Homo sapiens: one gene and its partners. The protein of the gene in region 4 interacts with the protein of the main gene of each other region in a pairwise test. Each region holds a gene or a part of one and is shown on either strand. Other genes may lie near its edges. The genes, in order: MAGEC3, SLC6A3, PRPF40A, SNCA, FOXR1, RNF111 and PACS1.

Region 1 (3,500 bases), on a different chromosome or scaffold from region 4:
TACAGTTGCCCACATTACATTTAAAATAACCTAATTAAATGACCTTTCAATGGAATGGACTCTGGCTCTCCCAGGCTAGGAAAATGAGTGCCAGCCTAGAAGCTTCTGGGCAGCATTTCAAGGAATTATCGCCTTATTTCTCAGGAAACACTTGCAAATGATGGGTATCAATCACCTAGTCCTTGCACTGTGTTCAAGCTCACCAGTTAGAGAGCTGCAAGACAGCTTCCATTACTTCCCCACATGGAGACTCCTCTCTCCCTCATCATCCACCCAGAAGGAACTGCTCAGAGCAGTTTTCCATTGCAGGCTTTTCTCTCACCTTCTGAGAGTCTGGCCCCTGCCACCACCCAGCTTCATAACAATCAGCTCCCACAGAAGCACCTGCAGTTTCCCGAAGCCCCACACTACCTTAGCTCAGGGACTTTATACTTGAAGACTCCATCTGGAGTCTCACCTCCCCACTTTTTTGAAACTTATGATTGTAGAGAGCATCTTACCACCTTCTTGACATGGCTTCTGCTCCTAGACTCTATTGTTTTATAGGTAAGGCATAACTCTTGCTTTTCACTGTATCCCCACTATTAAGAGTCCCCTCCGCAAGCAAATGCTCACAGAATGTTAGGCAAATAAAGCCGTCAGAGATGCTTTTATTTATTAACATTTAATTTCTGCTACTTTCTTGAATGAGCTAAGCAAAGCCAGGTCTATTTCTTTAATTTTCAAGAACAACAGTATAAACGGGATAAGGAAATGTAACTATTCACCATCCTTTATTTCGTTCCACTATTTAACTGCTGAGTTCTTACATAATTTAAAGAAAATTCCTAGTACAATACCATGTTATCCTGTTATAGATCACAAAATAAGAGACAAGCTTTTTCCATTTTTTTTTACAAAATATCAAACTGTTACTCTTAAACTAGATAAACAGCAATATATGTGTGACTAATATTTATAAAATAATATTCTGAAGCTAATTCAACCTACTATTAAAAGGAAAATCATTCAAAAAGTACACAAAAGGAAACGAGGTAAATCTATCTCTCCCATATGGAACAGAAATGCAAAGAACACTGTATTGTTCCCTCAAGCCCCACCCGGGCCCTCCACTACCTAGGACCCTGACTGCCCTCTTCAAACACAGACGTAAGAAACGGCCCTATACTTCACTCAGGACAGGAGAAGTTTCTGGAGATGACACGGAACCTTGCACTGGCCATGGCAGTAGCATCATTTTTGGTGTCAATTATGGCCTGGGCTCTGTCTTCCACATCTTTCAAAGCATCCTTGGAAGAGATTGGAAAGGAACTAGAGACGGTATTGTTTCACATGACCAAAATCTCACTACTTTCCTCTTGCTAGTTTCTGAATGGGCTCTAGGACCCCACAGGAATTCATAACGTGGAGGAGCACTACTGGGCACATGTCGCTACTCCAGGTAATGTCCCTGCACTCAAACTTTAGTGACAAGCTCCCTGGGCTCCCGATAGACGAAATGCTCCCTCTGAGCACACACCCCTATTGCATTCAGCACTTCCCAGATGACCTCCTCAGATGCACAGTTGCCCTTTATGAAGATCACACTCAGAATAAGAATCAGGAGGCGGTTCTGGGGCATGCCCTGCTCATCACTCAGACTCCCCTCACAGGTGAGGTCTAATGTGTTTACAAAGACATAGAAATGGTCGGGGTCCACTTCTGTCAGGGAAATGCCAAAAAGAATCTCTATGAACTCACGGGCTTTCCTGAAGATCATAGGAAAGTAGCCCGTGTATGTGTTGATGACATTCATCTGCATCTCTGCTCTTGTGAGAGGCTCTTTTGCTTGATATTTGAGGAGAAGAAACTGCACCAACTTGTCCACCTTTTCATCCAGTGTATAAGTGAACAAGGGCTCGCTCTCTGGCAAGCTGTGCCAGGTACTTGTATCTTCATCTTATTGGCTGCTAGGCTCTTCATTGAATGGGCTTCATAAAGTGGAGGAGGAGCAGGACAGGGAACCCTGGAGAGGACCCTGGGGAGGACTCTCAGGAGGATTCTGGGGAAGAGGCAGCATCCCAGCAGACAGCTACTCCTCCTCCTCCTCATGAGCACCAAGAATCAGAGTAGAGGATGAGGAGGAGGAGGAGGAGGAAGAGGAGAAAGAGGAGGAGAAGGAGGAAGAAGAGAAGGAAGAGGAGGGGAATAATAAGTAGAAAGAGGAAGAGGAAATGGAGGAGGTTTTCTCCTCTTCCTCCTCTGTGGAATCCTGTGCATCTGCCAAGTTCTCTATCACAGTTTGGTTCTGGAAGTCTTTCTCAAAGTTGCCGCTAGGAACATTTCAAAACACAGGCATAACGTCTTCCTTAGGAGCAGGAGGTAAATGTGTGAGCAGGGATGTGGATGATGGCATCCAACAGGCCTGAGGGAGAGAGGGACACTGCAAGTGGCCTCAGCTGAGAAACTCACCCATGGTGGTTCTGACAAAGGCCGGCTTACAGCTCTTCTTCTCTTAAGGTGGTGCTCTAGGGCCTCACGGGTCACCTGCCATCCTAGGGGGTTTGTCCCCTGGGAACCTGTAGGAGGATGTGAGAAAGCACCTCGGGGCACAGCTGGCAGGCAGAGCCTGAGGCACCAGGAATGGCAGTAGGTGGCTATGGCCAGGTGCTGCCAGGTCTGCTCTGTTTGTGGGGGTAGGGCCCTTGGTACACAGTCAGGGCGTGCACTCACCTTGACTCCTGATATTGCCTGGGCCTCCTCTGCTGTGCTGACTTTAGGAAGTGTGCCTCAGACCCAGGTCTTCAACTCCTGGTTCCTGGAGCACCTGCAAGAGGAAGTGAGGGAGCCCCTCAGGCTAAAGACTGCAAGCAGAGTCTTGGGCCTCCCAAGGCTGACAGCTGGGGCTGACCAGACTCCCAGAGCCCCACAGTTCTGGACTGCATGGTCCCATCAGAATTTAATTAGCATCCTCACCTTTTCTCAGACAGGGCCATGTCCCTACCACTCTTCTAGCCAAAACTCAGGGCAAACTCCACATCCCTGAGAGCAGTGGGAGGTAGTGAGGTGGCAGCCACCTCCCAGCACTCTACCACGGGGGCAGTTGGGCTGGCCTCACATCTGTTCTGATGCACATGTGACTCCTCAGTCCTCACTCTTATCCCCAGCAGGGCCTGGGAATCTTCCCTCTGCCAACTGGAGGCAGCTCCCTGTGCTGATTTGCCACGGGACCCTCAGACCAAGGCCTTCCCTTTCCCTGCACCTCTCACCCAGCAATGAGAGGGCTGCCGCTCAGCCTGAGCTGACTGGGGAGCTCTACGAGGGCTGATATGGAGGAGCATGCTGGGAATCTCTGGGAGTCTGTCCTCTGAGGTGGCGTTTCCCCTTGTCCTTCTCAAAGTCTTCCTATTTATTCCCTAGAGAGCTGGCACCTCCTCCCTTCTTCTGTCATGAAGACGTGTCCCTCAGCCCTCGGTTACCCTCTTCCTGTCTGCGACCTACAATCTCACAGCAGGTAGAGG
Region 2 (3,500 bases), on a different chromosome or scaffold from region 4:
AAGGAAGGGCTGAGTGTACCCTGGGTCCTTCCAGAGCCACTGCTTTTGTTTCCTGCCCTGCACCACAGATTGGCAGGGCCACCATGGGAGCATGACATCACCATGGCCACTGTGCATGACATCACCACTGGCCACACTGGCTGATGCGGCTCCCAGAGCAAATGGGCCTGCTCTGATCCATGGGACAGTGCAGCCCCCACACCAGAGTCCCCCTTACCAAGAGGACCCCTCCTGGTTGAGGATGCTTCCCTGGGCACCTGGGTGAGGAAATGGCTCCCTTGAACAGTGGTGGCCAGTCCCCTCCTGGATGCTTCCCTGGGCACCTGGGTGAGGAAATGGCTCCCTTGAACGGTGGTGGCCAGTCCCCTCCTGGATGCTTCCCTGGGCACCTGGGTGAGGAAATGGCTCCCTTGAACGGTGGTGGCCAGTCCCCTCCTGGATGCTTCCCTGGGCACCTGGGTGAGGAAACAGCCTTGAACGGTGGTGGCCAGTCCCCTCCTGGATGCTTCCCTGGGCACCTCGGTGAGGAAATGGCTCCCTTGAACAGTGGTGGCCAGTCCCCTCCTGGATGCTTCCCTGGGCACCTGGGTGAGGAAATGGCTCCCTTGAACGGTGGTGGCCAGTCCCCTCCTGGATGCTTCCCTGGGCACCTGGGTGAGGAAATGGCTCCCTTGAACGGTAGTGGCCACTGTCAGCACTGGCCAGGCATTCGGTTGCTCCAAGCCCTGCCCTTCAGGAAGGCAGAGCCCGTGACCTGGGCCACTGACGTGTAGCCCCTCACCAACCAGCCAACTTCACCACGAGCTCCTCAAGCTCACCGAAGGCCCAGACGCAGGAAACCCACTACCCTGTTGGCTACAGAACCTTCTAGTGATCTCTGCTCATGACATCACTGTGGGCTCCAGATGAAGCTTCACCTGACACATTTCTTAAACACCATTTAGTGACACGGGAGACTGTCTCCCCAAGGAGGTGGCAGGCAAAGTCCCTGCTCGCGTTTCCAGGGAAAACATTCATGAGAACATGGCGCTTCCCTTCCCTCCTGTCTGACTCCCAGGAAGCTCGGCGCTAAGTGTGAATTTCAAGCATAGCTTTTAAGGCCCATTTCCTTAAATTTATTTTTGCTTAGTATCTTTTTCTTTATATTAACCTTGTGTGTAGTTTGTTTTGTGTTTGAGAAATCACACTAAAATATGACTGACTATAAAATATTTTATATTCAATACAATCGAATGGTGGGGTTTCCAGGGCGTCTGTAAAATGGGGTTGCCCTTGGCAATGAAACCGAAACCTGACAAACAGAAGCTGGCTGAGGGTCGTGCCTGCAAATGGTGCTTCGCCCACCAGAGCACGGCCACCCTGCCCCACCCCTGAACACCAGTACACCCCAGGGCACCCACGAGAGCTGGCTTCAGGAGAGGGTGTTGTCAACGCATGCACGGATCCCGCTGGAGGAAGCCTCTGGTGGAGCAGCCCCTCCATACCTCACAGGAGGCATCAAGCAGGTCTTTGGAAGAAAGACGGGAGAGGGCCGGGCACGGTGGCTCACTCCTGTAATCCCAGCACTTTGGGAGGCCAAGGCAGGCGGATCATGAGGTCAGGCAATCGAGACCATCCTGGCTAACACGATGAAACCCCGTCTCTACTAAAAATACAAAAAATTAGCGGGGCGTGGTGGCACGCACCTGTAGCCCCAGCTACTCGGGAGGCTGGGGCAGGAGAATCGCTTGAACCCGGGACGCGCAGGTGACAGTGAGCCAAGATCGCGCCTTTGCACTCCAGCCTGGTGACAGAGCGAGATTCCGTCTCACAAAAAAAAAAAAAAAGAAAAGAAAAGAAAAGAAAGAGGGGAGAGGACGCCTCTCTGTGTCAGTCTGGGTGTCTTTAGTATGTGCTTGCTGTGTGTGCATGTACCCGAGAGACAGAGAGGAGAAGAGACAGAACAGGAGAGAGACAGAGAGGAGAAGAGACAGAACAGGAGAGACACAGAGAGGAAAGGAGGGAGAGAGACAGAAAGAGACACAGGGAGAGGGAAAGAGAGCGAGGGGAAGGGAGGAGACGGAGAGTTTTAAAGACCCACCTCTCAGGACCCTGGGGTGCACTGCGGGGCTGAAGGCCCCAGAGGCCCCTCTGGCTGTGGTGCCCATCCCAAGCTGCTCTGGTGAGACTACGGGAAATGCACGTGAGTCATGGCTGCTGAGCAGCTGGGCCTCACCATGAACTCCGCCCTCTGGCTTTCAAGGGTGGATCTTGGCTCCCAGTTAGGAGCAGGGAGCAGCTCGCAGGTCTGCAGGAGGGGAAGGGCCAGGAACAACCAGGCTTCCTGGAGAGCTGGCTTCATTCCCCCATGGAATTGCCACCTGCTCAGGGCTGGATGGCCTTTTAGCTCCACAATGATTGTTGTGGGCACTTTAGCTGATGTCTTAATTTACCACGTGGCACTTCTATTCAATGAGACATGAAAACGTATGCATTTTTATTAACCAGATTTTTAAAAAGGACAAAGGCACATGTATCAGGGTGCCGGGGGTGCATGGTGTACATCTGATTTCATAAGCAATGTCAGTCTCCTCTAAACTGGCATCCTGCGCTTGACAGGTAGGCAGAACAAACGGGACGCTGGCACCGGAACCTGCAGCGTTACTGAGATTCAACAACTCAAGGTGTCTCGTCTCTAAAAAGAAGTCCAGCTTTCTTGCACTGATTCATCTATCCCTTCGTGGGTCGAACAGTTCACTTTCTGTGATTTGCAATTTTCCTTCCTCACCAGGACTAGGTGAGTGTGAACAAGCTCTTCCAAAGATCCGCCCGCAGGGCCACGAGCCTTCCTTCCTGCGGCCACACTTTGCAGCCCTCCTCTGGGACTAGTCTTCAGAACGAAGCTGGCGGCATGGAATGCGGGATTGTGGGCACAGGGTCTGTGACACAGAGGAGACGACTGCCCAGCTTACCCCGGCTGCGCATTGTGGAGAACACGATGATATGCCCACATCCGCCGGCTGCATTTCTTCAGAACGAGGTGCCACTGCTCACGCTGATGGAAGTCAGAGGTTCTCTACTAGCCCAAGTTGAGTTGGTGCTCTGAAATTCTTAGAAATTGCTTCTTGACATTTTATGGACTACACCATGAAGACCCACAACGGCAGCTTTGTTGGTGAACATCCTTTCTGTGTGACAGACGGAAGGAAATGAGCTCTTATCTGCGGACCTACAGGTCCCTTTTTCTCCTGCCCTCCTCACCTGAATCCTGCACGTGAAGAGGTGATTTAACTTGCTCCAACACCAGGCTCACTGGCGGGAGTGGGGCACAGGGCTGTGCCTTGTAAGACACTTGTGACAGACTCCAGGGTGGCTCTTGAAAATCCAGCAAAGCACAGTTGGATGTCGCTGCAGCCTGTGCCAGAGCACAATGTCATCTTTCCTCAGTTTCCCCTACCCCAGTGGGCCGGCTTCATCTCTGACTCAGCATCCCAAGGCTCTGAGCCCTCAGATACTCTCCA
Region 3 (3,500 bases), on a different chromosome or scaffold from region 4:
TATCTGGTTGTAGAAGTCATTTTCTCATGATTTTCAAGAAAACGCTGAAAGGATTCCTTAGCCTCTTTGTACTTTGATCTTGCTTCTTCTTTTTCTTCTTTTTCTGTCTGGACTTTATAGGCATTAAAGGCTTGCTTTTTTTCACTTAACTTTGCCAAAGCACTAATATAAAAATACCATGTAAGAGTAAACACAGGCAAAAGAATCAAATATTAGTGGTTTGAAAAAAAAAATAAAACTGTTTACACATATAATTTAAAAATTTTCAAAAATTTATTACAAATGATTGTAGAAAGTAATTTCTACTTTTAAAATAATTATTATTTTATATGTAGCGGAGTACTCAAATTGTTTGATAAGCCTTTGACTTTTTGGTTATTAGACATAAAACAACTCTATACTTGGTATCCTAAACAGAAGTCAACAGTTAAATGTTTTATCTTTCTACACAACTTTAAATGTGCTAGGCCTGCTATATGCTCAAAGTGAAAAGTAAATAAAAAGTTGAAGTACTACCTGTATCGTGGATCATTAATAATCATTTTCATAGCCTGCTCCCATGAAGCATTCGATGGTACCCGCTGAAAATAATTTAAATGAAAAATTAAAATTTCACACAAGAATAGTTTAAGTCACATAATAGGAAACTGAGTATAATACTAACTGCAAACATCAAGCATTTCCCTTTGCAGGAGTTTGAAACAAGTTATAAAAAATAGTTTTTTACTGAAGGCAAATCTGTGTAATACACCTATGAACTAAAATGAAAACTTTAACTGAAATTTAAATAGAACATAAATGCTTTTTTCTTAGACTATGGATAAAAGATAACTATTATGAATTAAAAAAAAACCCTTACATTAAATATTGGGTAGAAATGTGCTTGTGTAGTACCTTGTACACAATAGTTTTTGTGTTGAAAGTTTCACAAAAGTGTACTTCAAAAAAAAAAAAAAAGACATATTTAGTTGCTTTTCAGTTACAACAGTTCATGAGATTGGTATTATCAATACCATCAAGGTTTAATTAAAGAGTAACGTCATTTGTTGGGTAATTATTACACATCACATAAAAATCCATAATACATGCTTGATGTCAAAAAGCTAAGAAACAATAAAAATCTGCAATATTAATACCTTTTCTTTCAATAATTCTTTAAAAGCTTGCTTTGCCTCTTCCTTTGTATTCCAAGTGTATGTTTTCTTTGCTGGTTGGCTCTCCTCCTCTTCTTTTTTGGGAGTAAAACTAGAGAGAAATTCAAATGTGGTATTTATCAATTAAATAAATTTTTGCTTCATTTAGAAAAATAATGTCTAAATTGTTTAAATGTTTGATGTTGAAATAAAATTTGACATTTAGAATAAAAGCTATATGAACTCTAAAAACACACTTATCTGAAGACAAAGAAATAAAGATAATCGTTTCCTAAAAGTTCAGTTATTAAATCAGTTTTTAAGACCCTGGACAAATGACAAAATAAACATTTAACTGACTTAAAACACTAGCTCCTCTGGCCCATAGGTTAATAGTTTTAAATGGCTTATTAAACTCATTCAGTGGTTTCACATTAGTGCTATAATAACTCTAAGGATTTGGGCAAGTGTGAAGATAAATAAGATGTAAGGATCAATCTAAATCAGGATTGACAAACTACAACCCACTAGACAAATTCAGCCTATTAATTTTTGTAATTATAGTTTTACTTGAAAATGCCCGCGTTCATTTGTTTACACATTATCGCTGACTGTGCTACCACAGCTGAATTGAGTCACCATATAAAGACTGTATGACACAAATAATCCAAAAATATTTCCAATCTAATATTTCATGAAAGTTTGCTGAACACTGATGTCAAACAAAAATTACAACTACCCAGAATTACTAACTTGTTTAATAATTGGGGGTTTTCCTGATGAGAAAAAAATGGTAGAAGCCTTACATTTCTTTCTACATAATAAGGGAATGCATGGGTGGGGGCCAGGGAATGAAAAAAAAATAAGTAGAACGCTTAGGCGAAGAGACACTGTAGTAGATACTGACAAAAAATGATCTCTGTTATAGTAATTAAAATCAAAAGCGTATTATGACTCAGACACTATACCAAGGAAATGCTGGAATGAAAAAAAGCAGGAAACAACTGTTTAATGTTAAACTTATGGAAAACATTGAAGAAAACTTTCAGTATGACAAGACGCAAAATAAAGTTATTCCAAAAAGCCTAAATATCTATTGATAGAGGAGCACTTCCATTTATGCACAATCAAATGATAATAACCCATCATTTGACATGATGGGTACACATTTCTATCAATGTGGAAGATGTCTCTGATATATTAGATATATGTTCGTGTATCTTAAATGTAGAGAAAAGGGGGAGAAAGTATAAAACAAAATGTTAATTTCATTTTCATGCCTTCAAATACACCATACAGATTTCTTTTAAAACTTTTGAAACATCAGAAAAAGTTAAAAATCTATTTTGACTCTGGGAAACTAACATACGAAAAACAAAAGAACACTTAAAATAGGGGATGGATGGATGAAGGCAACATGCTTAAATATTAAGATGGATAATCATGTTTCAATAATGAGATTATGGTGAACTATTCAGGCCACCCTTAAAGTCAAGAAATTTAGCTTGACCTCACTTTCTAAAGCTCTATAAAGCATAGCCATATAAAATGTACTAGACTACAGGGTATGCAAGTACACACAAACCGTGAACTCTGACAGATAACAGCTTTGCTTTATTAAAAAGTTGTATTACTATAGTCTCACTAAGAGTGAAAAGAGAGTTTTCTTGTATCTGGTGTTATCTTTTAAATGTTTCTCTACTTGACTTTCACTTAGAAAAATAATCACAGTATTATTTTAACTTGTATTTCTTTATTATTATGGCTGAATGGCTTTTCATATACTTCCTAGACAACTTTCTTTCTCTGTAAATTGCCTTTTTTCCTTGGCCAGGTGGAGTGGCTCGCACCTATAATCCCAGCATTTTGGCACGCTGAGGCAGGCCAATGAGCTAGGCATGGTGTGTGTGCCTGTAGTCCCAGCTACTCAGGAGGAGGCTGAGATGGGAGAATCGCTTGAGGCCAGGAGGTCGAGGATGCAGTGAGCCCTGATCACGTCACTGCACTCCAGCCTGGGTGACAGAGGGAGACCCTGTGCCAAAAAAAAAAAAAGAAAAAAAAAAGAGAGACAGGGTGGCCTTGCTGTCTCACCCAGGATGGAGTGCAGCGGTGCAATCATAGCTCACTGCAGCCTTGAAATCCTAGGCTCAAGTGATCCTCCTGCCTCAGCCTCCTCAGTAGCTGAGGTTACAAGTGCTGGCTAATTTTTAAATTTTTTGTAGAGACAGAGTCTTGTTATGTTGCCCACGTTGATATTAAACTCTTGGCCTCAAGTGATCCTCCTGCCTCATCCTCCCAAAGTGCTGGGATTACAGGTGTGAGCCACCATGCCCAGCCATAAACTGCTTTTTTTTCCCCCATAATTCA
Region 4 (3,500 bases):
CAGATATGCTGAAATCTTTTCTTGTGGATCTACACCCAGAAGAGGGATTGCTGGGTCATATGCTACTCTATTTTTAATTTTTCTTTTATTTTTAGTGAATATGTAATAATTGTATATAATTGTGGGATCCAGAATTATATTTCCATACATGTATACAATGTGTGATAATCAAATTAGGGTAATTAACATATCCATTACCTGAAACATTTATCATTCCTTTGTGGTGGGAACAGTAAAAATTAAAAATTCTCTCTTCTAGATTTTTGAACATATGCAATAAACTATTGTTAAGTATATCACCCTACAGTACTACAGAATGCTAGAACTCATTCCTCATATTTGGCTCCAATTTCATATTCTTTAACCAACCTCTCCATATCCTCCCCTCCCTCTTACCGTTGTCAGCCTCTAATAATCATAATTCTACTCTCTACTTCTATCTCATTGTCTTTGATTTAGAATATGTTTCATAATTTAACCAAAGGTCAAATTCTTAGGTACTGCTAAGGCAAAGAACAAAGATCGCATTCCAGCTGTTAGACATTTCTTACTACTAGTCATTTTTAAGACAACATGGGGTGCAGGTGGTGAGGATGAGAGATAGAGATTGAAACATATTCTCTTAAATATCAGCTGTTCTCACTCTGCATAGTTCCAGCACAAACAAATTCCAGGTACTATGGTTAGTTAAATAACACCAGCCACTAACAACACAATTCAAATTTCTGTTACCACAGTATACCGAAAGTCATTGCATAAAGTACAAACTTTGCTGCTAACTCTTCAGCCTTCAAATCATTACATAAATAACAGAAACCCATTATAATCAGTGACAAAACCACAGCACTTCTTTCAAAGCTTTTTGGAGATTGGTTGCTTCACATCTGTTATGCAGTTCATACAGACAGCAATGCCCGGACTTGTGTGGCCACATTGTCTCCCAGTGGTGAGCCCATGTGATGTTTCACGAAAATGCGCAATCAAAAGAGGAAACTGGCCAGCAAAGATGAAAGAGTAGCAAACAAAGGAAGTGAAACATTCTGGAAGTAAAATTTGAATCAAACATAAGTTGATGTATACAGGAAGTAGCTACCCTGAGGATGTTGTCACTGCTGCAATTCAGGAGACTCTAAATATGCAGTCAGAGGAACGTAGTGAGGTGAAGGTATCCGTATAATGGGGAAAGAGGTTGTGATAAAGAGTGAAGGTGTCCCAGAGGAAGTGTTGCTGAAAAATACACCTTATGTTAAATACACTGTCAGTATATCATGACATTAAAGTGCAAATGATAACATTTTGTAAACTGATCCAAACTTAAAAAGGAGTATGATAATTCTGTAAAACATAAAAATCATGCCGATTCCATAAATTATACAGTGTGAATTACACTGAAAAATCCAACATTAGAGAGGATATGAATACAATTTTTTACAAGCATAATTTTAATAATACACATAATAATTATTTGTATTCAAGTTTAGTAATGTTCAAGGTTTGGAAGAAATTCTGATCCTGTGTAGAGACCCTAGTTTGAATGTGCTTATAGCCTATTATTACATGTGTAATGTTACATAAATTACTTAACTCGGATTTTTAATTTCATCAGCTATTTAAAATGGGCATAATATAACTATATTAAATGGCTGTTATGAAGATTAAATAAGATGATATGTAAAATGTGTTTTTTGTTTGTTTGTTTGTTTGTCTGTTTGTTTTTTTGAGACAGAGTCTTGCTCTGTTACCCAGGCTGGAGTGCAGTGGCACAATCTTGGCTCACTGCAAGTTCTGCCTCCCGAGTTCATGCCATTCTCCTGCCTCAGCCCCTCCCAAGTAGCTGGGACTACAGGCACCCGCCACCACGCCTGGCTAATTTTTTGTATTTTTGGTAGAGATGGGGTTTCACCATATTAGCCAGGATGGTCTCGATCTCCTGACCTCGTGATCTGCCCACCTCGGCCTCCCAAATTGCTGGGATTACAGGCATGAGCCACTGCGCCCAGCCTAAAATGTTTTTTTTACATAATGGGTGTTCAGCACATGTTAAAGCCTTCTCTCCATCCTTCTTCCCTTTTGTTTCATGGGTTGACTGATCTGTCTCTAGTGCTGTACTTTTAAAGCTTCTACAGTTCTGAATTCAAAATTATCTTCTCACTGGGCCCCGGTGTTATCTCATTCTTTTTTCTCCTCTGTAAGTTGACATGTGATGTGGGAACAAAGGGGATAAAGTCATTATTTTGTGCTAAAATCGTAATTGGAGAGGACCTCCTGTTAGCTGGGCTTTCTTCTATTTATTGTGGTGGTTACTGGAGTTCCTTCTTCTAGTTTTAGGATATATATATATATTTTTTTCTTTCCCTGAAGATATAATAATATATATACTTCTGAAGATTGAGATTTTTAAATTAGTTGTATTGAAAACTAGCTAATCAGCAATTTAAGGCTAGCTTGAGACTTATGTCTTGAATTTGTTTTTGTAGGCTCCAAAACCAAGGAGGGAGTGGTGCATGGTGTGGCAACAGGTAAGCTCCATTGTGCTTATATCCAAAGATGATATTTAAAGTATCTAGTGATTAGTGTGGCCCAGTATTCAAGATTCCTATGAAATTGTAAAACAATCACTGAGCATTCTAAGAACATATCAGTCTTATTGAAACTGAATTCTTTATAAAGTATTTTTAAATAGGTAAATATTGATTATAAATAAAAAATATACTTGCCAAGAATAATGAGGGCTTTGAATTGATAAGCTATGTTTAATTTATAGTAAGTGGGCATTTAAATATTCTGACCAAAAATGTATTGACAAACTGCTGACAAAAATAAAATGTGAATATTGCCATAATTTTAAAAAAAGTAAAATTTCTGTTGATTACAGTAAAATATTTTGACCTTAAATTATGTTGATTACAATATTCCTTTGATAATTCAGAGTGCATTTCAGGAAACACCCTTGGACAGTCAGTAAAATGTTTATTGTATTTATCTTTGTATTGTTATGGTATAGCTATTTGTACAAATATTATTGTGCAATTATTACATTTCTGATTATATTATTCATTTGGCCTAAATTTACCGAGAATTTGAACAAGTCAATTAGGTTTACAATCAAGAAATATCAAAAATGATGAAAAGGATGATAATCATCATCAGATGTTGAGGAAGATGAGGATGAGAGTGCCAGAAATAGAGAAATCAAAGGAGAACCAAAATTTAACAAATTAAAAGCCCACAGACTTGCTGTAATTAAGTTTTCTGTTGTAAGTACTCCACGTTTCCTGGCAGATGTGGTGAAGCAAAAGATATAATCAGAAATATAATTTATATAATCGGAAAGCATTAAACACAATAGTGCCTATACAAATAAAATGTTCCTATCACTGACTTCTAAAATGGAAATGAGGACAATGATATGGGAATCTTAATACAGTGTTGTGGATATGACTAAAAACACAGGAGTCAGATCTTCTTGGTTCAACTTCCTGCTTACTCCTTACCAGCTG
Region 5 (3,500 bases), on a different chromosome or scaffold from region 4:
TACATGCCACTGCACCCCACTAATTTTTGTATTTTTTTTTTTTCAGATGGAGTCTCGCTCTGTCGCCCAGGCTGGAGTGTAGTGGCGCGATCTTGGCTCACTGCAACCTCTGCCTCCCAGGTTCAAGTGATTCTCCTGCCTCAGCCTCCCAAGAAGCTGGGACTACAAGCGCACGCCACCACACCCGGCTAATTTTTGTATTTTTTAGTAGAGACGTGGTTTCACCATATTGGCCAGGCTGGTGTCGAACTCCTGACTCATGATCTGCCTGCCTCACCCTCCCAAAGTGCTGGGATTACAGGCTTGAGCCACCGCGCCCAGCCCAATTTTTGTATTTTTTGTATAGATGAGGGTCTATGTTGCCTGGGCTGGTCTCGAACCCCTGGGTTCAAGCAATCCTCCTGCTTCGGGCTCCCAAAGTGTTGGGATTACGGGCGTGAGCTACCATGCCTGGCCTTCCTGTATTCTTTGTCTTAGCAAGTGGCACCACCATTAATGGTTGTTCAGGACAAAAACTATTTTTGCCCCCTCACTGTCCCTATGAGTGTCATTATATTACAGATGAATCTAGGCTTTTGTTTGAGAAATGATATACTTATCGGAGAGCTCAGTAATTAGAGAGGATGCCTATTATGTTGCTAATATTCAACATAGTATTCAAAAAAGGAAAAAGTAGCAAAAGATAGAAAAATTGGGGTTTTTTTGGAGACAGGGTCTTGCTTGGTTGCCCATGCTGGAGTGCAGTGGTGTGACACCGGCTCACTGCAATCTCCACCTCCCAACTCAAGCAATCTTCCCATCTCAGCTCTTAAATAAAGAACTTAAAATACTTGAACAAAGACTTATAATACATACTATTAAGATGCCAGTTACCCTCAAAATGAATCTGTAAGTTTTATGCACATATTATAGCACAAAAATTAAAGTTTGGCCAGGTGCGGTGGCCCACACCTGTAATCCCAGCACTTTGGGAGGCCGAGGCAGGTGGATCACTTGAGGTCAGGAGTTTGAGACCAGCCTGGCCAACAAGGTGAAACCCCATCTCTACTAAAAGTACAAAAAATTAGCCGGGCTTGGTGGTGTGTACCTGTAGTCCCAGCTACTTGGGAGGCTGAGGCAGGAGAATCACTTGAACCTGGGAGGCAGAAGTTGCAGTGAGCTGAGATCGTGCCACTACACTCCAGCCTAGGTGACACAGCAAGACTCTGTCTCAAAAAAAAGTTCTAACATAGTAAAAATCACCATAAGCAAAAAACAAATAGACAAACAAACAAAATAGCAAAACTTCAATCCAAATTTCTCAGTTCTCTGATACATAGAGAGCTCCTACAAATCAATATGTAAAAGGTCAACACAAACTTAGAAATGGACAAATGATATGAATCAGCATTCACAAGGAGGGGATAACTGAATGGCTAACGAGATGATCAGCATTATTAATAATACGAAAAACACTGTAAGATAATGAGATAATCAAATTGACTGGAATTATAAAGATAATACCAAGTGTTGAGAAACATGCAAAGAGACAGAATCTCTTATTTTACTGCAGTTCTGTGTATCAACTGGAGCAGCCCTTGTTAAGAGCAATCAGGCAGGACCACAATTTACTCGACCTTACTGTCTGCTCCTGGATGTATATATTCAAGTTAATACAGGAACTTATATACTAATCAATCTCCATTGTTACTACCATCTACTGACCTCCTGGTTTAGCTGTCACTCTCCAACACTACTCCTGCCTTAAATCTTGGCTGCTGGCCAGGTGCAGCGGCTCATGCCTGTAATCCCAGCACTTTAAGAGGCTTAGGCAGGCGGATTGCTTGGGCCCAGGAGTTTGAAATCAGCCTGGGCAACATGGTGAAACCCCATCTCTATAAAAAATACAAAGATAATAATCTAGCCGAGTGTGGTGGCGTGAGCCTGTAGTCCCAGCTACTCAGGAGGCTGAAGTGGGAGGATGGCTTGAGCGGGAAAAGGGAGGTTGCAGTGAGCCAAGCTTACGCTATTGCACTCCAGCTTGGGCAACAAAGCCAGACCTTGCTTCAAAAACAAAAACATGATCTTTGCTATTTATTGAACTCTTCTCCAGCGAGTTTGACTTCTACTCTACTGTGGACACTCCCTCAGGCATAACCTAAACCAACAACTGCAACCTCTCCGTAACCTCATTTATGCACCACATAAAAACGCACCACCTCGTGTCTTTCTGGCTAACTCCCTCAACCCCAACTATGATCCCACTGAGGTCACCAGTCCACTGAATTATGGTTTTGGCGCACTCGTTTGGCAGAGGTGGATTTAGTCAGGGTTGTGGTTTGGCCAACAAAGTGCTCCAAAGCCACAGATGATCCAGGGAACCTGCGTAATATCTGACCATGGGATTCAAGTTAGTTAAATAAGGGTGGACATATCAAGTGATTGAAACAGTGAAAAGGTGATAGGATCAATGGACTGGTGATCTCATTGCGACCCAAGGATAGCACCTTTGTATGTCTGTGTCTCTCTTTGGCACAGATCCCCCATGCTTTTTCAAGGATGTTGTTCCACAAATCTTCCCCTCTCTTTCCTGTGTCACTAATTTTTTGTCTTTGTTGGGTCATTCTCATCAGCATGCAAACATGCTGTTAATTCTCCCATTTTAGGGACCAGGTGCAGTGGCTCATGCTTGTAATCTCAGCCTGCTTTGGAAAGCTGAGGCAGGAGGATCACTTGAGCCGAGGAGTTCAAGGCTGCTCAAGGCTGCTCAAGGCTGCTCAAGACTGCAGTGAGCTGTGCTGGTGCCACTGCAGTCCAGCCTGGGCACCAGATAGAGACCCTGTCTCTAAAAAAAAAAAAAAGAAGAAAGAAAAAGAAAAAGATTATCCCATCTTATTTCCTGTTGAGGCATAACACATTGCCTCTACTTCCCCTCCTTCTACTCTTAAACCCCCTTCAGTCAGGTTTTTTGTTCTACCACTTACTAAAACCACTAACCAGGGACCTCTGCTTTGTTAAGTCCAATCATCACTTACATTCCACTCATCCAACCCCTCCCTCCTTGAAAGGCTTTTTCCACTTGGTTTCCAGGATACCACAGACGCCCTAGTTTTGATTCTCAATAGTCTTTTTTGCTAGTTATCTCTCTTCTCTCCAATCTCTTTACAATGGACTGCCCCCAGGGCTCATTCTTGTTCCTCCTCTATTCTTACTCCTTAAGTTCCACCCATATACCAAAAGACCCAAAATTTACATCTGCAGTCCCCACTTCTCTCCAGAACTCCAGGCTCATGTATCCAACTGCAGACTCAATGCTTCTACTTGGATGTCTAAGGATCTCCAGCTCAGCATATCCAGAACAGAATTCCTGATCTTCCTTCCTAAACCTGTCTCCCACTCAGTACAAGGCAACTCTATCCTTCCACTAGGTCAAAACACTTTGAAGGCTCATACTCAATTGTCTGTCTTATACGCCATATCCAATCCATCAGCATAGCCAGCTGGTTCTCCCTGCTACTACC
Region 6 (3,500 bases), on a different chromosome or scaffold from region 4:
AGTTACAGTATTTAACTTGGACAGTTGAAAACTTGAATGTACTGGTAATACCTCAATACTCTTTGAAAATAGATGAAAAATACAGAGAATAGTAATTTTCACACTTTATGATTATTCTTTACATAGTATAAAGGAGTCTCCAACCCCTGGGCTGCAAACCAGTACCTGGCTGCACAGCAGGAGGTGAGTGGCAGGTGAGCGAGCATCACTGCTGGAGCTCTTCCTCCTGTCAGATCAGCAGCAGCGATAGATTCTCATAGAAGCGTGAACCCTATTGTAAACTGTGCATGTGAGGGATCTAGGTTGCATGCTCCTTAAGAGAATCTAACTAATGCCTGATAATCTGAGGTGGAATAGTTTCATTCTGAAACTATCCCCTCTGCCACCTATCCATGAAAAATTGTCTTCCATGAAAACTGGTCCCTGGTGTCAAAAAGGTTGGGGACCGTTGGTATTGAGCATGGTTTAAGACACGTATTTAACATGTCTACCCCATAACTGTATAATGCTATACAAGCAACTGAGGGTAGAGTAGAAGAAACATACATCAATAAAATGTCCGTCAAAATAAATTGCTAGTTAAAAAAATTACAGTACTGCCATATGATGGAATTCTGCATAAGCTATTAAAAATAATAAGGGTGATCTGTGGGAGCTAATTGGCATGAAAGGCAATCTGCAAACTATGTGGTAATCATCTCCTTTTGTGTTTTTTTTAAAGTAGACAAAAATATATATACATATGCACATTATTAGAAAATGCTAAAAAATATCTAGAAGAATATCTAAATCCTTAACTATGATTTCACTTCTGGGAAGAAGGACTAGGGTCTGCAGAGTAAAAAACTGCAAAGTATATATTTTTTATACTTTCCAAAATTTTTAAACAATATGTATGCATTACTTCAATAAAAATGTCATTGCTAGAGTCTACAAATTCAAAAAAGGTATATATTACATTTATGCCTTTCAGTAACACTCCAGAAGTTTCATAGAATAAATTCTTACCTTTTTGTATTTATGTGGATATGTACATCTTTCAATTGTCCCCTGGGATGCTCCACGATTGACATTGCCTAATCTTTCTTCCAAATGAATCAGTTCCTGAAAGTGAAGAATATAATGACTGGTAAAAGCCAAGATGATTATTCCTTGAACAGAACTGTCAACATTGTATAAGAAATAAACCTCCATACTTAGAAACTTGCAATATAAATACAGTGTTCAAAAAAACTTACACATGACAAGTGGTTACTTATATATAAGTATATATATAAAACAGTTTATATGTTGCCCAGGCTGGTCTCAAACTCCTGGCCTCAAGTGATCCTCCCACCTCGGCCTCCTAAACTGCTGAGATTACAGGTGTGAGCCACCATGCCTGACTTAATGTTTCTCATAGACAGTAAGGCAAATGGTTGTTTATCATGTTTTCCTCAGCCAACTGAAATGGTACAGCAAAAGTTATCTTTATAAATTACAACAATATTATCACATGGTACTATGTAAGTCAGTATGTATGTATGTATGGAGAAGATGAAATAATTCTAGTAAATTAAGGAACCAAATCAAACAATAGTTCTAAGTCACAATGACTCCAACTTCCAAACTGACATAAAAAAAACACAACGGGGGCCGGGTGCGGTGGCTTGCGCCTGTAATCCCAGTACTTTGGGAGGCCAAGGTGGGTGGATCACTTGAGGTCAGGAGTTCAAGAGCAGCCTGGCCAACATGGCAAAACACTATCTCTACTAAAAATACAAAAATTAGCCGGGCGTGGTGGCGGGCACCTGTAATCCCAGCTACTCAGGAAGCCGAGGCAGGAGAATTGCTTGAACCCAGGAGGCGCAGGTTGCAGTGAGCTGAGATTGTGCAACTGCACTCCAGTCTGGGTGACAGAGCAAGACTCCATCTAAAAAAACAACAACAACAAACAAACAAACAAACAAACAAAAAAACAAACCACAACAAAACTTTAAATCCCATTCGAATGATTTGTTCTTCCTGAAAATTCAAACAAGACATTTAGCTACAAAGGGAATTACTTAAGTTTCTTTTTCTCTACCGATTTCTCTAAAAATTTAGCTGAGTCAAAAACATTCCGTTCCCCACCACATTTAATGGTATAGTTATATATCTGACATTTATATTGATTTAATACATTTTTATATTCTTCTATATTAGATATTTTCATTTACTCATCTTTAAATATTTCGGTAACTTTTGACCCTAAGATTAATAATACTTACAAATATTTCTGTAACTCCCAGAAGCAACATCAGAAAATCACATGTGATTCCCAGCCACTGTAGCAGTCCTACACAATTGTGTATAGTAGTATATATATACTCAATCTGCATTAAAGATACTGTGACAAACATATTCATTTATTTTATTACATACCTCAAAATTGCCCCTGAAAGGACCTCTGAATGATGTTCCATCCAATCCTGATGAAATGTAACGGATGTGAGGATAGCCTGCCATATCAGGAACCTATTTCAACAGAAGAGATAGGCTAAATCAATTTTAAGAATAGACTTGTGATTTACTGTTAACATTGAATAATTCAAGACCCTCAATGTTTTCAATTCAACTGCTCATAAAATTTGACTTCAATAAGAATACATAACTCCAACTAAGCATTCTGTAACAGGTTTAGGTTTCTGTTAAAATATAACCTAACTCTCCAAAATGCCCAAACTTAAGCCTGAGGCTCTTAGTAGCTCAAACTTGAAAAGAGTAAAATTGTCTTAAGATCCTGTCCATTTCAGAGAGCTTTATTAAAACAACAACAAAAAATGCACACAATTTTCCAACAAAATTCGACTTCAAGATAAGTTTTTTACTTCACTTCTGTTAAGCTTCCTAACAGCCAAAGTACCCTATGCCTTTTTTGCTTGATTCTATTAGGGAAACTTTTAACACTGTTTTCTAATTTTTTGTTAGTTACAGTCAATCTTCATTATTTATGGATTACATATGTGTGAACTGACCCACAGGCTAAAATTTACTTGTAACCCCATAATCAACACTTGTGCTTTCAGAGTCATTCGTGGATATGACCGGTGGCAAAAAATTGCAGTTGCCCAACATGCAACTCTGTTCCCAGCTGAGGTAGAACAGGGCTCTGCCGTATTTGAGCTCCTACTATAAACCAGTGTCTTGTTTGCAGACTGTTTAGTGCCACGTTTTTCACAGTTTTGTGCTTTTTGTTGGTGATTGTGTTGTTTAAAATGGCACCCAAGCATAGAGCTGAAGTGCTGTCTAGTGTTCCTAAGCAAAGAAGGCTGTCATACACCTTATGGAGAGAATAAGTTTCATTCACGCATGAGTTACAGTGTTGTTGGCTATGAGTTCAATGTTAATGATTCTACAATATTTTTTAAAGTTGTCTTTAAGCAGAAACACACATAAAAAAGGTTATACACTGATTAGTTGTGAACAGAGGTTTGCAAGGGTCCCATATTTGCTAATTCAGTGTTTGCAGCAACTGTATA
Region 7 (3,973 bases), on a different chromosome or scaffold from region 4:
TGTCTTGGAAGCTAGTGGAAAAACCGGGCACCCAGGGGACAGTGGCTACCACTGCTTTCCATCTCTAAGTCAAGGGCGGGCAGGAAAAGGAACTCCACAGATGTCCCTCAGCCCTATTCCCTCCACCTGCAGAGGCAAAGACCCCACTGGCTCGGACTTCACCAACCTGGAGCAGGGGAGAGAAGCTAAGTTCTGACCTTTGATCAGAAGATGGGGAAGCCACACTCAACACGTCACTGCCTTGGGAGGTGGATTTGGGGATGGTGGGTCCTGGGGAAAAACGGGCTTTTGGTGTGGAAATGACATCTTTCCTGTTTCCGACCTCTGCCTGCCTCATGCCAGGTGAGACACCTTCATGCCTGTTTCCATGATTGAGAACATGGGAGTACGCTTCTTTCCACCTACGTTCCTGGTGGATTTTCACTGGAGTTGGGCTGCACTGTGGAAAAGGGGTTGGGCAGCTCCTGTGGCACAGTGAGGGGGCATAGAAGCCCAAGGCAGTCGGTAAGAAATCACCAATTTATTGAATGAAAAACCCAACATCAACTCAGTCCCTCCCACCCCCATCTCCTCTCTCTGGCCCAGGAGACGCTCAGGACAGCAGGGCTGAGCCCTGGGAAGGGCTGGAGGAGAGCTTGGGGGAGGTATGGAGAATGAGAAAAACACTTTCAAAATGAAGTTCTGTGCAAAAACTTCTGGGAAGGAGTGAGAGGACAAGAGAAAAGCTCCAAAGGGGCTGTGGGGCGCAGATGGCCGGGCTGGGGGGTGCAGAGGGCTGGGCTGGGGCCCTGTGTCCTCAACCACTCCTGAGAACACGGACGGTCAGGAATGAGGGGCTCAGACCCCGGGTTGGTGAGAGGGAGGTGACAGGGAGGGAAGGAGCCTGCTGGAGGGAAACCTGGCTGGGAGGATGGGTCTGGGCCCAGGCTGGGGCCTAAGGAGGGGGAAGAACAGAGCAGGGAAAGGCAGAAAAACTGACACGGTGGGAGGAGGGAGATGAATGGGAGATGAAACAGAATGTCTGAGGGGCCACAGACAGCATGTATGGTGGTGGGGGTCTGCCTCCCATCTCTCCAAGTCCAGGCAGAGCTGTGCTGGGTGAGGGGCTGGGAGGCAGAGGCAGGAGCATCATTAACAAGGGTGGAAGCCACGAAGACAGCGACCAGTGCACAGGGTGTGTCACATGGTACAACCAAGAGACTTGGCGTGCAAAGAACCAAAGAAACACTCAGGACACACACGACATCTGCAGGGAACCTGGGGGTGGTGAGGAAGTCGTGCACGGGTGGTGGGGGGAGACTGGGAGGCCCCTCTGTCCTAGAAACGCTGTGTCACCATAGCAACAGGGTCCTGGAGGCAGGGGAGCTGCCTCCTGCCCCTGTGAGCTGTGAAGTAGGGGTCCTGTGGGCTCAGGGTGCCCCCTTACCCTCCCTTGAGAAGCTCTGGGGCAGGTGGAGAACCCCATAAGAGTTGAAAGTGGCCTTGGGTCCTGCTGGAGGCAGCAGAGTGAGTGGATCTGGCAGCTGCATCCTAGAGGACACCCTGGTGGCTGGAGGGGCTGGGGGAGGACTAGGCTCTCCTGCTGGGGACCAGGATTCCAGCTTTCTCATTTCCGAGAAGGAAACTGATACCACAAGGAAGAGTTTGGAAGTCGGGTGAAGGAAGGCCTGGGGGACTCAGTCCAGGGGACTATGGGCACCAGAAGGCAAAACCAACACGCCTTGGGCCTGGAGCAGGAGGGAGAAGGGGAAAAGCGGGAAGGAGGAGGGGCTGTGCAGGGGTGGGCTGGAGGGGAGGGGAGGGAAGGCGTCCCTGTGGCAGTGTCCTTCGGGACCTGGGCGAGTGAGAGGCAGACCCTGGTGCCAGGGAAGGGGTGCTGGGCCCGGGCCTGCTGGCCTCCCCCTGCCCGCAGGCGGTGAGGCTGGTGGCAGTGCCAGGAGGGAAAGTGGCTGGGAGACAGGGCCTCAGGTGGCCTTGCTGCCACTGAAGAGTCCCACTGGAAAGTGCTTGACATGGGTGGGCCACTGGGCTGCCAGCTGGAAGAACTTGATGTCACTCCACTCGACCCCATCGATGGACACTAGGGGTGACAGGAGAGGAGGGGTGACCAGACTGCTCAGGCCATCTCCCCAGGGCCCCTTGGGAAAGGCCATTGCCTGCCTCCCTCTCCAGTCCCTTTCTTGCCCTCCTCCCGGCCCTGCCTGCCCTCGCACCTCTCAGCATAGTCTGCTGCTGCTTGGCTGAGCAGATGAGGCGGCTGATGCCTTCAATGACCTGGCTCTTAGAATCCACCTCCTTTTCTCGGGGTTTCTTGCTCAGGAAGATGGTGGGAACTGGAAAGCAAGCAAGGCCACCTGTGTCCCAGCCCCTGGGGAAGCCGCCACCCCTCTCCTCCCCAGCCGACTGTCCCCTTCTTCCTGTGGCGAGGGGAGGTGATCTGCAAACCAACCCCTCCTCCCTGGCACTGGGCTGTGGGTCAGGATCTTCAGGTTCCTGACTCAGTCCCAGCACTGGGCTGGTGACTTTGGCTAAGGTCCCACTTCTCCCCCTGGGGCTCGATATCTTCGCCTGTTCAGTGAAGACCTTGGTCCAGATGGTCTCTGAAGTCCTTTCCAGCTGGAACGTTCTAGGCAGCCTGTGGGGCAGGGGCCTGCCTCCCTATCAGGCGCATGCTCTATGCAGGAGCCAGTGCAGCATGAGTTTGTCCTCACGCTGTCCTGGGGATGCCGGGGAGTGCTCCCTGTTCCACTCCCACTCCAGAAAGGAAGCAAGGGCAGGGAGGTCACTGCTGAGCAGGCAGCTTCCCCTTGCAAGTTTCTGTGCTGCAGGCCGTGGGTTTTGGCTGTGGGCCTGGCACAGCCCCATGCCTGACCCCCCAGGGGAACTCTGCAGAGGGGAGTCACACACAGAAATAGGCACAGCTGCTTTGCAGCACCCAAAGGAGGCGGGGTTGGGGTCATGCCAGTGCTGCAGGTGCACTACCAGTTGCGGGTCCCCAGCTGGCACCAACGGTGGCAGGCGCTGCCGCAGCACTGGCCCAGCCATGGGGGTTCCTGCCTCACTCCCACGCACAGGAGCCGGGCCAGCTCCAACTCCCCTCCAGCTCCTTAAGCTACCCCTGCTATCCAGAATGGACTGTATGCCCCTTAATCCTGAAAACACAACCACGTCCTTTTGCTCATGAGGCCTCTTTGGAGAGGCCTCCAGGGCTGGGTGCAAGTTCTCTACTCCTGCGTCACAGGGACCTGGAGCTGTGATATAGAGAGGCCTCTCCCTGTCTGCAGTCCATCCCGGACAGCAGTGGCCAGAAAGGCCCCCTTCATTACACAGTGGCAGCTGCCTCAGCCCCTAAAGTACTGGAGCTCAGCAGAGAGTGACCAAGCGACTCTCTGCAGCCTCGGTTTCCTGCATGACAGAAGGAATGGCCTTGTCCCTCGAGGGGAGGTGGGACTGCCCCCTCTGCACCCCATGCCAGACCATGGGATGCTTCTTCATCCCAAATATCCCAAAAGCAGATTTATTCCCAGGCCCTGAGAGACGAGACGGGAGGCCTGGTGGCCCATGGTCTTCCCCGGCCTTGGGGGTACTTACCTTTCTTGTTCTTTTCTTTGGTGACCACAGTCATGGCCATGGTGCCAGAAAGCTGGGCCTCCCCACTATGGGGCAGGCGGGACACCTGCACTGAGCGGAAGACACTCTTGAGGGTGTTCTTCGAGCTGGCGTCCCTCTTGTCGCCTTCCCTCCTCCGCTCCCCGGGGTGGCCCAGCCAGTAGTCCACCTGGAGGCCAATCACGTCCCCATATGGGCTATTAGGGCTCCTGAGGAAAGGGAACAAAGAGGAGAGGTCAGCTCTGCCTTCAGCTCCCAACTACATAGGCCTGATGGGGTAGGGGCCATGCCAGTCCCCGGGAGGGCAGGCTGAGGAAGGCTGCAGCTCTGTTCCCTCCAGCCACACAGAGCAGCTCATGTAGGA

The links.
Region 1: the proteins of SNCA (region 4) and MAGEC3 interact in binary tests that used the Homo sapiens proteins (3 or more experiments, as listed by UniProt).
Region 2: the proteins of SNCA (region 4) and SLC6A3 interact in binary tests that used the Homo sapiens proteins (3 or more experiments, as listed by UniProt).
Region 3: the proteins of SNCA (region 4) and PRPF40A interact in binary tests that used the Homo sapiens proteins (3 or more experiments, as listed by UniProt).
Region 5: the proteins of SNCA (region 4) and FOXR1 interact in binary tests that used the Homo sapiens proteins (3 or more experiments, as listed by UniProt).
Region 6: the proteins of SNCA (region 4) and RNF111 interact in binary tests that used the Homo sapiens proteins (3 or more experiments, as listed by UniProt).
Region 7: the proteins of SNCA (region 4) and PACS1 interact in binary tests that used the Homo sapiens proteins (3 or more experiments, as listed by UniProt).

What each region holds. Positions count from the first base shown.
Region 1 is NC_000023.11:141,879,816-141,883,315, reverse strand, and holds part of MAGEC3 (melanoma-associated antigen C3), read right to left. Parts: intron 1,914-3,500; coding exon 1,520-1,913; intron 1-1,519.
Region 2 is NC_000005.10:1,435,441-1,438,940, forward strand, and holds part of SLC6A3 (sodium-dependent dopamine transporter), read right to left. Parts: intron 1-3,500. UniProt on the Homo sapiens protein: Mediates sodium- and chloride-dependent transport of dopamine. Also mediates sodium- and chloride-dependent transport of norepinephrine (also known as noradrenaline). Regulator of light-dependent retinal hyaloid vessel regression, downstream of OPN5 signaling.
Region 3 is NC_000002.12:152,672,462-152,675,961, forward strand, and holds part of PRPF40A (pre-mRNA-processing factor 40 homolog A), read right to left. Parts: intron 1,246-3,500; coding exon 1,137-1,245; intron 582-1,136; coding exon 517-581; intron 163-516; coding exon 1-162.
Region 4 is NC_000004.12:89,827,162-89,830,661, reverse strand, and holds part of SNCA (alpha-synuclein), read left to right. Parts: intron 1-2,477; coding exon 2,478-2,519; intron 2,520-3,500. UniProt on the Homo sapiens protein: Neuronal protein that plays several roles in synaptic activity such as regulation of synaptic vesicle trafficking and subsequent neurotransmitter release.
Region 5 is NC_000011.10:118,974,761-118,978,260, reverse strand, and holds part of FOXR1 (forkhead box protein R1), read right to left. Parts: intron 1-3,500. UniProt on the Homo sapiens protein: Transcription factor which acts as both an activator and a repressor.
Region 6 is NC_000015.10:59,088,663-59,092,162, reverse strand, and holds part of RNF111 (E3 ubiquitin-protein ligase Arkadia), read right to left. Parts: intron 2,497-3,500; coding exon 2,404-2,496; intron 1,105-2,403; coding exon 1,009-1,104; intron 1-1,008. UniProt on the Homo sapiens protein: E3 ubiquitin-protein ligase. Required for mesoderm patterning during embryonic development. Acts as an enhancer of the transcriptional responses of the SMAD2/SMAD3 effectors, which are activated downstream of BMP.
Region 7 is NC_000011.10:66,241,272-66,245,244, reverse strand, and holds the end of PACS1 (phosphofurin acidic cluster sorting protein 1), read right to left. Parts: intron 3,819-3,973; coding exon 3,592-3,818; intron 2,334-3,591; coding exon 2,214-2,333; intron 2,081-2,213; coding exon 1,965-2,080; 3' UTR 501-1,964; downstream 1-500. Other genes in the region: uncharacterized protein LOC124902694, read left to right, coding at 133-196. UniProt on the Homo sapiens protein: Coat protein that is involved in the localization of trans-Golgi network (TGN) membrane proteins that contain acidic cluster sorting motifs.